Regions from separate parts of the Homo sapiens genome. Here region 2 is linked to region 1. The links come from fine-mapping of genetic effects on gene expression. A gene starts in region 1. The other region holds a variant in brackets. All regions are shown on one strand. Distances are from middle to middle.

What was found.
Region 2: its variant is fine-mapped to the expression of GPR160 in whole blood (TOPMed, PIP above 0.99).

The regions. Positions count from the first base shown.
Region 1 is chr3:170,033,212-170,041,545 of GRCh38, forward strand. GPR160 (G protein-coupled receptor 160) reads left to right here and starts at 4,784. Exons shown (of 4, transcript NM_014373.3): 1 at 4,784-5,004; 2 at 5,704-5,832. RefSeq lists silencers at 4,759-5,238, 5,549-5,598, 5,759-5,808 and an enhancer at 5,664-6,163.
Region 2 is chr3:170,215,283-170,223,616 of GRCh38, forward strand. It overlaps PRKCI (protein kinase C iota), which reads left to right and starts at 7,142. Exons shown (of 18, transcript NM_002740.6): 1 at 7,142-7,488. The coding sequence starts at 7,388. RefSeq lists enhancers at 6,673-6,732, 6,803-6,862, 6,873-7,032 and a silencer at 7,213-7,502. The variant G/A (reference allele first, on the strand shown) is at 4,172.

The sequences.
Region 1 (8,334 bases):
TGTCAGCCTTATGATCTCTATTTTAACATTAATGCTGGTCAGTTGTGTCTAAACCATAAAAGGGAGGGGTATAATGAGATGTGGTTGACCTCCCATCTTGTCATGGCCAGGAACTCAGTTTAAGGCTTTTCTGGGGTCCCCTTGGCCAAGAGAGGTTCTTTTCAGTCGGTGGGGGGCTTAGGATTTTATTTTTAGGTGACAAGGCTTTTCTTTGGGAACAATAGTATATCTAGTGGGATTATATTCAATTCCATGGAACAAACCCTGACCTTAAACAAGTAAGGGGGTTGCTTTTCTCGTGTAGTAAGACATCTGGAGCTAGGCACAGCTAGGTGGGTGCGGCTCCACCTTTATTGTGGGCTGTCCCAGAGTCTAAGACTACTGCTCCACCTCCAGCCTCAAGGCAACCTCACAGCAACCTCAAAGCAGGAAGGAAACAGGAGGCTGAGAAAAGGGGTAGTACCCGCAACAGGAAAGCAAAAACCTTCCCAGGACTTGCCAGCTGACGTCCTCCTATATCTCAATGGCCAGAATTGTGTCACGGGACCATTTCCTCCTACATCTCATTGGCCAGAACCATGTCATGTGATCACCCCTGCGATGACCTCGCGAAAGTGGGCATCTTAGCTTGGCACATTGCCTCCCTGTACAAAATCTGGGTTCTCTTAGAAGTTAAGAAGGCGAGAATGGATTTGAGGAGGCAGTTAGCAGTGCCCCGTAAAGAACTGACGGATCAGGGATGTCGGGAGAGGAGAAGCCGCCTCGGAAGTACCACTGGACTCTGGATTTCTAGGAGCTCTGGGCACCACTGTTGATGCATTTTGCTACAAGGAGGCAGGGAAAGATAGTCTTTGTTCCACGAAGCTCTGGGCTTAGCTTCAGTTCTATTACAGCCCCTTAATGACAGGGATACATTCTGAGAAATGCGTCTTTAGGCAATTTCATTTTGTGAACATGGAGTGTACTTACACAAACTTAGATGGTATAGCCTACTACACACCTAAGTTATATGGTATAGCCTATTGCTTCTAGGCTGCAAACTTCCACAGCATGTGACTGTACTGAATACTGTAGGCAACTGTACTGAATACTGTAGACAACGGTAAGAATTTATGTCTCTAAACATAGAAGAGGCACAGTAAAAATACAATATAAAAGATAAAAACGGTATACCCGTATAGAGCACTTACCATGAATGGAGCTTGCAGGGCTGGAAGTTGCTGTGGGTGAGTGAATGAAAAGGCCTAGGATATTACTGTCCACTACCGCAGACTTTATAAACACTACATTTAGGCTACACTAACAATAAGTTAATCTTGGCTTACTGTAACTTTTTTACTTTGTAAACTTTAAATTTTTTTTTAACTTTTTGACTCTTTTGTAATAATACGCCTTAAAACACAAATACGTTTCAGCTGTACAAAAATATTTTCTTCTATTCTTATTCTATAAGCTTATTTTTCCCATTTTGAAAATGCATTTATTTACCTTTTAAACTTTTTTTCTTAAAAACAAAGGTGCAGGCCTACACAGGGTCAGTATCATCAAGATATCACTAGGTGATAGGAATTTGTCAGCTCCATTCTAACCTTGTGAGGCCACTGTTGTAGATGTGATCCATTGTTAACCAGAATGTCATTGCAGCACATGACTTTATTACAGAAGAAGGAAAGAATGGACAGTGGGGAGCAACCAAGGTCTCTGTCTGCCACAGTTCCTCCACCAGCCCCTGAGACAGAGTTCCCCTCAGGAGGAGTCTGGTATGCGGACCCATGTACACATCATCTCTAGACAGAGAGACTTCAGGGCAGTTGTTGACATCGGCTTAAGAAATGGTGGGAGAGTGGCAGGCACTTGGGGATGCTGAAAGTATTTGAAGATAAATCCAGCCTCCCAGATCCGCCTGGAGAGAGGCATTGACAGGGCAGCCTGGCTGCTCAGAGCTACCCTACCCCAGCCTTGTCACTAGCAATATGTCTCTCCTTCCTGGGTCTCAGTCTCATTTTCCTCTTCTTTTTTTTTTTTTTTTTTTTTTTTGAGACAGAGTCTCGCTCTTGTCGCCCAGGCTGGAGTGCAATGGTGTGATCTCAGCTCACTGCAACCTCCGCTTCCCAGGTTCAAGTGATTCTCCTGCCTCAGCTTCCTGAGTAGCTGGGATTACAGGCGCCCGCCACCATGCCTGGCTAATTTTTGTATTTTTAGTAGAGACGGGGTTTCACCATGTTGGCCAGGCTGGTCTCAAACTTCTGACCTCATGCAGTCTGCCCACCTCAGCCTCCCAAAGTGCTGAGATTACAGGTGTGAGCCACTGTGCCCGGCTCTCATTTTCCTCTTCTATAAAGGAGAGTAATAACCCTACCTTGCAGGGTTGGCGTGAGGCTCGTTTGAAGTTATGTATGTCCAGCTCCTGTTCTATACTATCCACTCCCTAGATGATGGTTATTTTTGTTATGAGTATGATTTGGCCCCCATGCCCTCTGCTCTAACTCAACTCCCATCCTCTCCCTCTCAGGTCTTCTGACCCACTTGCCATTCCCTTATTAGAACATGAACTCTCTGCCTGGCTTTCCACTTCCCACTTTGCACACGTTGGAATCTTGGCGGAAGCACCTCACATCCCGTTGAACCCGGTACTCCTCTGTGATTCAGTTGGCCTCTGCACTTCTCCAGGAAGTTCTCTCTGCCACTCCAGGCCAGGTGAAGCTGCTCCTCAGTCTCCCTAGCAACCCACACTTAATTCTATCAGGGTTCTTCTTGCACCCTTGGGCAATTACTGAGTTCCTTGCAAGGCTAGTCCAGACTCTCAGTGTATAAACCACCCTTGAGGTAACTAATTCCATCTTAGAAAAACCCTCCATTTTATATTTCATGGGCACTTTGCTAACAAGGATAAGATGTTTTGCTTGACGAACAAATTTTAAAAAAGAACACAAACAAGCACACTCATCCACTATAAGTTCTCACCAGAGGACCCTCTGACTGTAAAAGAGCGAAGCCTTCAGCTTGGCTGTCTTCACTAACACCGTCTTGCAGTCACTCATGATAAGAACTCAGAATTTGCCACCGAAAGCTCTGCCACATCAAAGACTCTTCCTTGCAAGACCACCAGGCCCAGACCAGGACTCCCTTTGTCTTCTTCCCTCCCTTTGGACTGGTTCATTAACCCTTTCTCCTCTTCTTCGTCTTGATGTTAAATATTACTTTGTTGTGGAATGTTTAATCTACAACATTCGTATAGTGATTAAGTATACTAGTATGTATGGTTTGCAATATTTACTGACTTATGGAGTGGCTTGAACCTATGTGCTCTGACTACAGAGTGAATGGGAAGGACTAAGGAGAATTGCCTCCTTGGGAACTCCATGTAGCTCCTGGATTTTGTGATTGAAATAGCATTTAAAAAAAAAAAAAGACTGACATTGTGGAGAGATACAAACGTGTATGGACATGGTCATCTTTAATCTCTAACTGCTATGACACTCAGAGAGGTTGAGAGGCTCAGGACACTCCCCTTGTTCAAGGCTCTGCGTGAAGAGGAGAAGGAAGAAATTGTGCAATATTTTATTTTATTTTATTTGTTTCAGATGAAGTCTGTCTCTGTTGCCCAGGCTGGAGTGTAATGGCGTGATCTTGGTTCACTGCAACCTCTGCCTCCTGGGTTCAAGTCATTCTCCTGCCTCAGCCTCCCAAGTAGCTGGGACTACAGGCATGTGCCATTACGCCCAACTAATTTTTGTATTTTTAGTAGAGGCAGGGTTTCACCATGTTGGCCAGGCTGGTCTTGAACTCGTGACCTCAAGTGATCCACCCGCCTCGGCCTCCCAAAGTGCTGGGATTACAGGCTTGAGCCACTGCGCTGGCCTAATTGTTCGATATTTTAAATGTTTAAATGACCGGCAAGTCGTAGGTGCTCAACAAATATTTGTTGAATGACAACAAATTAGCACTGTTGACACAAAAAAGGCAATGCAATATATGGGCTATTTAATATTTGCAGATTTTTATTTAAAAATCTGAATTCACAGTACACTGCAGGCGGTTGCTTAGAAGCATACAAGTTTCAAGAAGTTCTGTCACCCTGTGTATACTCTTTTTTTTTTTTTTTTTTTTTTTTTTTTTTTTTTTTGATACGGAGTCTTGCTGTTGCTGCCCAGGCTGGAGTGCAGTGGTGCGGTCTTAGCTCACTGCAACCTCCGCCTCCTGGGTTCAAGCGATTCTCGTGCCTCAGCTTCCCAAATAGCTGGGATTACAGGTGCGTGCCACCAAGCCCGGCTAATTTTTGTATTTTTAGTAGACATGGGGACCAACGTGGACCATGTTGGCCAGGCTGGTCTCAAACTCCTGACCTCAAGTGATCCGCCCACCTTGACCTCCCAAAGTGCTAGGATTACAGGCATGAGCCACCGCCTGGCCACCCTGTGTAAACTCTTATCTGGAGACAACTGCCAAGTTTACATTTGCAGAGGTAAGGGAAGGAGAGGCCCTGACCCAGTGGCCCCCGCTCGCCCGCCTGCTGGGGAGATGGGGAGCTCCTAGGACAGGGGCCGGGTCCTCAAGATGTGGCATGAGGAAGGGGGTCTCACTGAGCCCCCAAGCGGCTCCCGCACTGCGCACCCCTGGCTGCGTCCCTCTGCCAGCCTCAACTCAGCCCTCTCCTAGCCGGCGGGGGGTGACAGTCTCTGTGATATCTTTCCGTCCCGCCGGCAGGCGGCGCCCTCCGGCCCTTGTTTCGTTGGGCCCGGACGGGACGTGCGCGCTCAAAGGTTGCCCGTCTCTGACGCCCGCATTTCCTGGTCTGGAGCCGGCTGAGCCACAGCAGGGTCGCCGCGGGGTCCCGGGGCCGTGCTCCCCTGCCCCTCCCGGGAGCGCGCGGGGCGGGGCGGGGCGGGGCGGGACCAGGCGGGCGAGCTGGGCCCTCGCCCCTCCCTCGGGCGGTCACCTGGGCACGGGCGCTGCAGGTGTCGGGGCCTCAACCTTGCGGAGCCGACAGCCATCGATCCTCGGGTGAGTGCGGGCGCAGGTGGAGGGCGCCCGGCGCTCTCGCCACCGGCGTCCCAGCCTCGGGGCGGCGAACGGTCCCCGCGCCGCTCCCAGCCTCCCTGGCCGGGCGTTCAGCGCGCCTGGGAGGGGAAGGAATTTCCTTTGCAGGAACTCAGGGGCTGGGGGTTCTCTGCTACTTAAGAGATCCAGGAGTGGAGCCCGGACGCCCGAGCCTTCCTGCTTCGGGATGGGGATTACCGCGGAGCCTTAGCAACTGGGGTCTGTCGTGGGTTTGAGGGCAGGGGGTCTGGGGAATGGGCGTGTCCCGCACCCAGAGACTCGCCACCCTCTCTCCAGGGGAGATGCTTTTTAAACATGACAAACCCAGCAAGGTTATAGAAATGGGTGTATGCAACTCTTCGCTCTTTCCTGGCGCCCAGAGGTGAATAGTCTCACACACACGCGCGCGCGCGCGCGTGCGTGCATTCATTGGGGCCGACTTTGCCTCCCCTCCCCTGGCCTCGAGCGTTGGGGACGGCGCCCCCGCCCGCGCCCGCCACTGGGATTAAGCCCCAGGGCCTTGCCCGGCTATTTGTTTTCCGAGGCCGTTGCGTCCGGGTAGGTTCCTGGATGACCATCCTGGCTGGCTCAAAATTCCCTCTAGATTACCTGCGACCACCCCCAGGAACCCGGAGACTGAAACTCCTTTTCTCACCTGCGCAGGTGGCCTCGAGGTGGTGGCAGGGCCGCCCCCTGCAGTCCGGAGACGAACGCACGGACCGGGCCTCCGGAGGCAGGTTCGGCTGGAAGGAACCGCTCTCGCTTCGTCCTACACTTGCGCAAATGTCTCCGGTAAGGGGAAGTGTCGCTTAAATCCCAGAGATAACCCCCACCGAGAAGCATCACAAAAGACATGAACGAGTGTTTAGCTCTCAGGATTGTTATTGCTTCGAGTGAAATGGTTTCTTGTGTGCTTTTGTGCATTTATATATAAATATAAACATATATGTATACATTTGACAAGCTCTAAGACCGGCACTTGTGATATCTCCAGAATAGAGTTATTATAGTTATTTGGAAATTGTCAGTGAGGATCAGCTTGGTTGCTATGCGAATTGCAGGGAGGAGGACCTGTGTGCAGTTTCAAAACGATTTAAGAGAAATTCGGTGGCAATACAAGGTGTGGACGTTGGTTGGATCCTGATTTGATGAATGTTTTTTAAAATGGAGATGATGCCCGAGTGCGGTGGCTCACACCTGTAATCCCAGCACTTTGGGAGGCCGAGGTGGGTGGATCACCTGAGGTCAGGGGTTCGAGACCAGCCTGGCCAACATGGTGAAACCCTTCTCTACTAAAAATACAAAAATTAGCTGGGTGTGGTGACACGCGCCTGTAATCCCGGCTACTCGGGAAGGCTGAGGTAGGAGAATCGCTTGAACCCGGGAGGCGGAGGTTGCAGTAAGCCGAGATGGCGCCACTGCACTCCAGCCTGGGAGGCAGAGCGAGACTCCGTCTCAAAATAAATAAATAAATAAGGAGACGATGAAGGACATTTCTACTGATTATTTGATGGTATCAAGGAAATTATAATAGTTCTGTTTAGTTACTTTTGGTAACGGTATCCTGATTAAGGTTTTTAAAATCCCTGTAGAGACACAGACTGAAGTTGAAATACAGCTTTGGGATTTGCTTCAGAATTATTCAGTTTTAGATGCTAGCAGAGAAGGGAGGGGAACAAGATGAGAGGAGATTGTTCATGGATTGTTAATAGTTGAAGCTGGGAAGAACACATGGACACAGGCAGGGGAACTTCAGGCACGGGGGCCTGTCGGAGGGTGGGGGGAAAGGGGAGGGAGAGCACTAGGACAAATACCTAATGCATGCAGGGCTTAAAACCTAGATGACGGGTTGATAGGTGCAGCAAAACACCATGGCACATGTATACCTATTAACAAACCTGCACATTCAGCACCTGTATCCCAGAACTTAAAGTAAAACAAAAATAAAAATAGTTGAAGCTGGATGATGGTTATGGAAGTCCTTATGCTATTGTTTCAGTATTTGTGTGTGTTTGGCATTTTCCTTTAAACAGAACACCACCACTTGTGGAGCTTTTTTGCATAAGGTAGGTTTGGCACTGCAGCCGAGTCTAGATGCAAGGTCTTCCGCAGACGCTCGTTCTTTGTAAATTGGGTGTCAAGGCTGCTTCTCCAGACTCGGTCATAAAAAGTTTTTTTCTCCCTACTGGAGGTGCCGATTTATTTTGCTCAGAAGGCAGAGGGTGTTTGCTGAGTGTGACAAAGCTGAGCGGATCAAGTTGATGCAGGTGGAGGCTAGGTCAGCTTTTTTTACACAAAGGGCATTAGCAAGCCTGGGGGTTGATTGCCTCCGGTCGGGCGGATTGTATAAAACGTGTTAGCAGTTTTTCCTAATTGCCCAAATCCCTTCCAAGTTGTGTTCATCAAAAAACAGAGTTTGCAGTAGTGAACACACGTGTCGGTATGCACTTAGGATTTATGTACACTTCTGAAAGCATTGCATGCCTCAGTAAAAAGTGTATATGATGAAAACAAAGCACAAGATGAGTAGAGGGCTGCTTATTGCTTGAGAGAGAGCTTAGCTGTGTTGTGTTGCCTATTTCATCTTTATCTTGTTTGCTTCAGCGATCATGACATGTAAATATTTAGCAAAGCACTGACTCCTAAAAGTTCTGCATGGTGGTAACACATTTTTTTTAAGAATCATGCTTGAAAGAGGGTAAGGAAGGAGTAATAGCTATATCTTCATCAGGCTTGCTCCAGATTTCTTTTCTCCAGATTTAGCCTATAATTCCTACTCATTCTGTCATGCTTGGTCAGTACTTTGGAATAGTGATTCTGAGAGGGAGCTGTTGAAGTTAGTAGAGGGAGGAAGGGGAGGTATATTTCCAAAAGGTAAATCCACATTTTTTAGTCGCTTCAGTATAACTGAATGTAATGCCTTTTGATTTAAAGATAAAACAAGTCAAAGAGATGAGATCTGGGACAGTTAAAAGTTGAAGTGTTCGGTGAATCTCCCCGGCGTAGACCTTGCTCGTGTAGATTCACTAGTCTAAAGGATGTAAAGATTTTTTTTTTTTTTTTTTTTTGAGACGGAGTCTTGCTCTGTCACCCAGGCTGGAGTGCAGTGGCGTGATCTCGGCTCACTGCAAGCTCCACCTCCCGGGTTCACGCCATTCTCCTGCCTCAGCCTCCCGAGCAGCTGGGACTACAGGCGCCCGCCACCACGCCCGGCTAATTTTTAGTAGAGACGGGGTTTCACCGTGGTCTCCATCTGTTGACCTCGTGATCTGCCCGCCTCAGCCTCCCAAAGTG
Region 2 (8,334 bases), 180 kb after region 1:
ATTATACAAAGCATGTCCTCCGAGCACAACACAATGAAATTAGACATTGATAACAGAAGGAAACTTGGGATATTCAAAAATATGTGCATATTAAGCAACACACTTATAAAAAGACAAAATCACAAGGGAAAATGGAAAATACTAAGAAATGGATGAAAATGCAAAAACAGCATACCAAAATTTATGAGATGCAACTAAAGAAGTGTTTGGAGTATTTCTTTTGATAGCTATAAACACCTATATTAAAACAGAAGAAAGATCTCAAATCAGTAACTTAAACTTCCATCCTAATAAACTGGAAAAAGAAGGACAAAGTAAACCTAAAGCAACAAGAAGTAAATAAATAACAATGATTAGAGCAAAAATTAATAAAATAGAGAACAGAAAATAATAGAGAAAAATCAACAAAACCAAAAATTGGTCTTTGAAAGATCAACAAAGTTGATAAATTTTAACTCACCAAGAAAAAAAAGAAGACCAAATTACTAAAATCAGGAAAGAGGGAACATAACTACCAACTTCACAGAAATAAAAAGAATTCTTAAGAATTATTAAATTCTAATATTAAAGAATACTATAAACAATTATATGTGAAGAAATTAATAAATGAAATGGGCCAATTCCTAGAAAGATACAATCTACCAAAACTGACTCAAGAAAAAAATAGAAAATCTGAATAAACCTATAACAAAAAAAGCAATTGAATCAGTAACTTATTATTATTATTTTTTTGAGACAGGCTTTCGTTCTGTCTCCAAGGCTGGAGTACAGTGGTGTGATCACAGCTTACTGCACCCTTGACTGCCTGGGTTCAAGAGATCCTCCAGCCTCAGCCTGCTGAGTAGCTGGGACCACAGGCAGGTGCCACCACACCTGCTAATTGTTTAAATTATTAGTAGAGATGAGGTCACATTATATTATCTAAGATGGTCTTCAACTTCTGGGCGTAAGCCATCCTCCCACTTCAGCCTCCCGAAGTGTTTAAGATCTTCTTTTTTATTTTTTATTTTTTGAGACGGAGTCTTGCTCTGTTGCCAGGCTGCAGTGCAGTGGCACGATCTCGGCTCACTGCAACCTCTGCCTCCTGGGTTCAAGCGATTCCCCTGCCTCAGCCTACAGAGTAGCTGGGACTACAGGTGTGCGCCACCACACCTGGCTAATTTTTTTGTATTTTAGTAGAGACGAGTTTTCACCATGTTGGCCAGGATGGTCTTGATATCCTGACCTCGAGATCTGCCTGCCTCAGCTTCCCAAAGTGCTGGGATTACAGGCATGAGCCACTGGGCCTGGCCAAGATCTTCTTAACAAAGAAAAGTGAGAACTGGATGGCTTCACTAGTGAATTTTCTTAAAAATTCAAATAAGAATTAATACTAATTCTTCACAAACTATTCCAAATAACGTAAGAAGAGGGATTACTTTCCAACTAATTCTATAAGGATAGTTACCCTGATAACCAAAACCAAAGTCATCACAAGAAAAACAGAAGCTACAGAACAATAACCAGTATCTGTTATGAGTATAGAGGTAAAATTTCTCAACAAAATATTAGGAAACTGAATCCAGCAACATATGAAAAAATTATACACTATAACAAAATGGAATTTGTTCCAGGAATGCAAGGTTGGCTTATCTCCAAAAATCAATTAATGTAACACACCATATCACACAATAAGAAACAAAACCACATGATTATCTCAATGGACATAGGAAAAACACTTAACAAAACTCAACACCCTTTCATAATAAAAACAGCAAACTAGGAATAGACTGACGCTCAATGTGATAAAGGACACACACAAAAAACCTAGAGCAATCATCATAACACTTAATGGTGAAAGACTAAAAGCTATGCACGTAAGACTGGGAACAAGACAAGAATGTCCACACTTCTTCTATTTACTTATTTTTTTTTGAGACAGGGTCTCACTCTGTTGCTCAGGCTGGAGTGCAGTGGCACAATCTTGGCTCAATGCAACCTCCACCTCCTAGTCTCAAGCATTCCTTCCACCTCAGCCTCCTGAGTAGCTGAGACTACAGGCATCTACCACCATAACTGGCTAATTTGTTTTTATTTTTATTATTTATTTTTATTTTTATTATTATATTTTTGAGACGGAGTCTCGCTGTGTCGCCCAGGCTGGGGTGCAGTGGCGCGATCTGAGCTCACTGCAAGCTCCGCCTCCCGGGTTCATGCCATTCTCCTGCCTCAGCCTCCCGAGTAGCTGGGACTACAGGTGCCCGCCACCACGCCTGGCTAATTTTTTGTATTTTAGTAGAGACAGGGTTTCACCGCGATAGCCAATATGGTCTCGATCTCCTGACCTCATGATCCACCTGCCTCGGCCTCCCAAAGTGCTGGGATTACAGGCGTGAGCCACCGCACCTGGCCTTGTTTTTATTTTTAATAGAGGTGGGGTTTCACTATGTTATCCAGGCTGGTCTCAAACTCCTAGGCTCAAGTGATCCACCTGCCTTGGCCTCCCAAAGTGCTGGGATTACAGGCATGAGCTACTGCACCCAGCCTCTTCTTCTATTTATCTTGGTACTGGAGGTTCTAGCCAATATGATCAGGTAACAAAAAGAAATAAAAGGCATCCAGATTGAAGAGGATAATATAAATCTAACTGTATTTTATTTTATTTTATTTTTTTTGAGACAGAGTCTCGCTCTGTTGCCCAGGCTGGAGTGCAGTGGTGCGATCTCGGCTCACTGCAAGCTCTGCCTCCTGGGTTCACGCCATTCTCCTGCCTCAGCCTCCTGAGTAGCTGGGACTACAGGTGCCCACCACCACACCTGGATAATTTTTTGTATTTTTTTTAGTAGAGACGGGGTTTCACTGCGTTGGCCAGGATGGTCTCCAACTCCTGACCTCGTGATCCGCCCGCCTCAGCCTCCCAAGGTGCTGGGATTACAGGCATGAGCCACCACACCTGGCCTCATTTTATTTGTTTTTTAATCTGTATTTTAAAATGACAGTCTTGGCTGGTCACAGTGGCTCACGCCTGTAATCCCAGCACTTTGGGAGGCCGAGGCGGGTGGATCACGAGGTCAGGAGATTGAGACCATCCTGGCTAACACAGTGAAACCCTGTCTCTACTAAAAATACAAAAAATTAGCTGGGCATGGTGGCGAGTGCCTGTAGTCCCAGCTACTCAGGAGGCTGAGGCAGGAGACTGGCATGAGCCCAGGAGGCGGAGCTTGCAGTCAGCCCAGATCGTGCCACTGCACTCCAGCCTGGGCAACAGAGCGAGACTCCATCTCAAAAAAAAAAAAAAAAAAAATGACAGTCTTATATGCAGGAAATCCTAAGGAATTCACCTAATAAACAAGTTCTGCAATACAATATCAACAATATGCAAAAATCAACTGCATTTCTCTATAGTAGAAGTGAATAATTCAAAAAGGAAACTAAGAAAACAATTTGTTTACAATAGCATTATAAAGAATAAAATATTTAAGAGTAAAAGAAGTGCAAAATGTATACTCTGAAAATGAGAAAGCAATTGAAGCTGCCTAAATAAATGAAAAGTTATCCCATGTTCATGGATTGGAAGGTTTAATACTGTTAACATGACAAAAACCACACAAACTGATTCACAGATTCAAGGCAATCGTTATCAAAATCTCAGCTGGCTTTCTTAAAGAAATTGACAAGTTGATCCTAAAATTCACATGAAAATGTAAGGGATCCAGAATAGCCAAGACACTCTTGAAAAAAAAAAAAGTTGTAAGACTCACACTTCCTTGTTTTAAAAGTTACTAAAAAACTACAGTAATGAAGACACTGTGATTATTGTCAAAGGATAGACAAATCAATCAATAGAATAGAATTTAAAATCCAGGAATAAACCCTTAAATTTTGGTCATTTGATTTTTGACAATTGTGCAAACAATTAAATGGGAGAAAAATAGTCTTTTCAACAAATGATGGTGGGATAACTGAATATCCACATGCAAAGAAATCAATTTGGACCACTTACATTAGACACAAAAATTAACCCAAAATGGATCATAAGCTAAAAAGTAAGAGTTTAAACTATAAAACTTCTAGAAGGAAATATAGGTGTAAATCTTCATGATCTTAGATTACACAAAGCCCTCTTAGACATGACACTAAAAACATATATAACATATAGTCTGGCACACAGTAAAACAAACAAAAACCATAC[G/A]TGACAACAACAAAATAAATTAGACCTCGTGAAAATTAAAAATTTTTATGCTGCAAATAATACCATCAAAAATATGAAAAGATTAAAAAAATGAAAAGATAATGCACAGAGTGGGAGAAAATATTTGCAAATAATCTAATAAGAGATGTATTTCCAGAATATATAAAGAGCTCTGGCCAGGCATGGTGGCTCACACCTATAATCTTAGCACTTTGGGAAGTCAAGGTGGGAAGATCACTTGAGCCCAGGAGTTGAAGATCAGCCTTGACATTATAGGAAGACCTAGTCTCTACAAAAACGAGAAAAACAAATTAGCTGGGTGTGGTGGCATATGCCTATGGGCCTAGCTACTCAGTAGGCTGAAGTGGAAGGATCGCTTGAGCCCAGGAGTTGGAGAGCTGTGATCATGCCATGCACTCCAGTCTGTGCAACAGAGCAAGATCTTGTCTTGAAGAAAAAAAAAAGAAAAGAGAGAACTCTTACAACTCAATGAAAAAAGACAACCCAATTTAAAAATGATTAAAGGATCTGAATAGATAGTTCTCCAAGAAGATATATAAATGGCCAATAAAAACACGAAAACATACCCAACATCATTAGTCATTAGGGAGATGTACATCAAAACTGTAATGAGATACCACTTCACAACCACTAGGATGGTTATGATAAAGAAGATGGGAAAAAAACCAAGTATTGGCAAGGACATTAAAAAAAACTGAAACCTTCACTGGGTATGGTGGCTTACACCTGTAATCTCAGCACTTTGGGAGGCTGAGGCAGGCAGATGGCTTCAGTCCAGGAGATTGAGACCAGCCTGGACAACATGGCAAAACCCCGGCGCTACAAAAAACACAAAATTTAGCAGGGTGTGGTGGCACATGCCTGTAGTCCCAGCTACTAGCGATGTTCAGAATAGAAAAACTCATAGCAACAGAAAATATATTATTGGTTGCCAGAGGTTGAGGAGAGTGGGGAGTAACTGCTAATGGATATGCAGTTACTTTCAGGGTGCTGAAAATACTCTGGATTTAGGTAGAGGTGATGGTTGCAAAACTTTGTGAAGATACTTAAAACTATCAAATTTTACACTTTAAATGAGTAAGTTGTATGGCATGTGAATTATCTTTTTTTAAAAAAATGAGACGGGATCTCACTGTGCATTGTGTTGCCCAGGGACGGAGTCTCGCTGGAGTGCAGTGGTGCAGTCTCAGAGGCTCACAGCAACCTCTGCCTCCTGGGTTTAAGCGATTCTCGTGCCTCAGCCTCCGGAGTAGCTGGGATTACAGGTGCCCGTATATTTTATAATATATTCCATAATTAATCGCTCCGTATTAAACTTGCTGATGCAGGTCTCCAATTACTGAAAAACCTGATACCAAGTTTTTCAATGGGATTTTTTTGTTTGTTTAAGAGATGGGGTCTCACCATGTTGCTCAGGCTGGCCTTGAACTCCTGGGCTCAAGTGATCCTCCAGCCTCAGCCTCTCAAAGGCTGGGACTACAGGCATGTAGCACTTTGCCTGACTCAAGGGGAATTTTTAGTAAGAGTATATAATCCAAGTCTGTAGCAGTTGGAGGATGTCGTACCACGCTGAAGTGTCACACATAACTGATGACTCAGTCCCCCAAGCCTATTTTATCATCGTAAAGAAAGCTATTTCTTTGATTATTCCAACTCTTTCAGCACCAGGACTGCTGCAGGGGCTGGATTCATGCTACCTGTAGTTGCAGTGTAAATTATGTGTCAGAGCCAAGATCCTAGGAAAGTCAAAGACTAGGTTACAAGAGCGATTCTTTTTTTTTTTTTTTTTTTTTTTTTTTGAGACAGAGTCTTGCTCTGTCGCCCAGGCTGGAGTGCAGTGGCACAGTCTTGGCTCACTGCAACCTCCGCCTCCCTGGTTCACGCCATTCTCCTGCCTTAGCCTCCCGAGTAGCTGGGACTACAGGCGCCCGCCACCACGCCCGGCTAATTTTTTGTGTTTTTAGTAGAGACGGGGTTTCACCGTGTTAGCCAGGATGGTCTCGATCTCCTGACCTTGTGATCCGCCCGCCTCGGCCTCCCAAAGTGCTGGGATTACAGGCTTGAGCCACCGCGCCCGGCCAAGGACGATTCTTTCTAATCTTTGGTAAGCCAGTTTTTACAGAATGAAATGCTCTTGGATTGACTGACTTGATTGGGTAAGTATTCATTGGGCTCTTGTTCCATGCAAGGGCAGTCTACAAGGGCCTAGATATGGGGGCCCCCAAAGAAGAAAAATCGGTTTTTCATCATATTTTCTGGTTGAGTTTCTTCCTTTATTATATTTGTTACATATGTTATTAAATTATTTCCATAAAAGAGGTTATGCTGAGCAGGTAACCAAATTCTTGTTCCCCCAAAAGACATGTATAATTCAGACGATTTATGCAATTAGAAGAAGGGAGACTTCATCAGTTAATAAAGTCTAGAACGTGAGGAAGCCCAGTCATTTCCAGGACCTTCAGATGCCCAAGCTGGATCCAGGTTTTCCACCCCGACAGCTCCAGGGAGCACGCTGGAGAGACAGACTTCACCAGCGGGAAGGCGCGGCACCCTACGCGCAAGGAACCTCAAGTCCCAGAATCCTATGAGGACTCCAAATCCCAGAAACCTGCACGCAAATCTATCCCGGGTGCCAAGTCGGCCGACCGCAGACGTGACCAAGTTGCGAGGCTAGGGTGAGGTGTCGTAGAATTTGTCCCTACCATTGTCCCTGCAGGGAAGAGACTTTAGTGATCTAGAGCTGGTCATTGTCTCTTTCACAGCTCGCGTGAAAGCACCCCTCTCGGCGTGTTTGATGCCATGATCAGCGTCTCCCATTCCCTCTGTCCCCTTTCTCTGCCCCCGTAAGGATGGTTCAGCCCGGTATTGAGGCTCCTTGAGCTGGCTGGATGGTTGCGCCCGCCCTACCCCGGAATGTGGGCCTTTGGAGCGAGCGAAGTGGGAGGGACCGACGCAGGAGGTGTCTTGGGCCCGGGCGGCTGTAGAGGCGGCGGCGCCTACGGGCAGTGGGAGGAGCCGCGCGGTTCCGGCTGCTCCGGCGAGGCGACCCTTGGGTCGGCGCTGCGGGCGAGGTGGGCAGGTAGGTGGGCGGACGGCCGCGGTTCTCCGGCAAGCGCAGGCGGCGGAGTCCCCCACGGCGCCCGAAGCGCCCCCCCGCACCCCCGGCCTCCAGCGTTGAGGCGGGGGAGTGAGGAGATGCCGACCCAGAGGGACAGCAGCACCATGTCCCACACGGTCGCAGGCGGCGGCAGCGGGGACCATTCCCACCAGGTCCGGGTGAAAGCCTACTACCGCGGGTGAGTGTCCTGGGACAGGGCGGTGGGCGGGAGGGGACAGGCCGGCTCCACTCGGCCTGGAGGAGGGGAGGGTGAGGGGCTGGAGGTGTTGTGGGCGGATTGGGCTGGGCGGGCGGGCGGCTCCGGTGACTCAGGGTGAGTGACGAAGTGATAGGGGTGGGGGCGAAGCAAGGGGATGCAGTACTGGGGGCGCCCCCAGGTATGGCGGTGCGGGGAGCCGAGGGGCCAGAGTAGGGTCCGAGAAGGAAGCTAGGGTTAGAGTAGGTGCACCTGGTGTGGACGAGAGACTCGCCTCCTGAGAGCTTTGTAGGGGCCTTGCATCCTTAAGTCTGGGTGTATTTGGGGTTGCGAGTTGAGGATTCCAAGTGATGCCTTAGTTAACTCAGTTTGCTGTGGGGATAGAAAACGGGACTTCTTCAGTTAGCTGTCCGTTTTGATTACCAGCAGGCCTAACGCCTCTGGTTCTCTGAGATATACCTCCATCCCCGTTGTGTTCACGTAGTGTATCTGCACTGCCAGTATATTAGACATAGGGGTTGTATTTAAGAATCAAGTCGATGCGTTTTCAGGGACGTGCAGTGGGTACTTACGTGTCGTCAAGATTAAGTTGCATGTGTGTAAATCAAAATTTTGTGAGCCTTTCTTTCTCAGTGTTGTTTCAACGACTACCCGATAGGGTGAGATACTGCAAGGTGAGGAGACTAGCCTAGTTACAGTTTTAAATTCTCTGATCTTCACTCCCTTACTATGGTTACAAGAAAAAACCCAGTTCTAAGTTCATTGTGTTAAATCATTTTCTATCAGTGACGCAAAGTGCCCCCCTTCCTTTAAATTCAGTTGTGGTTT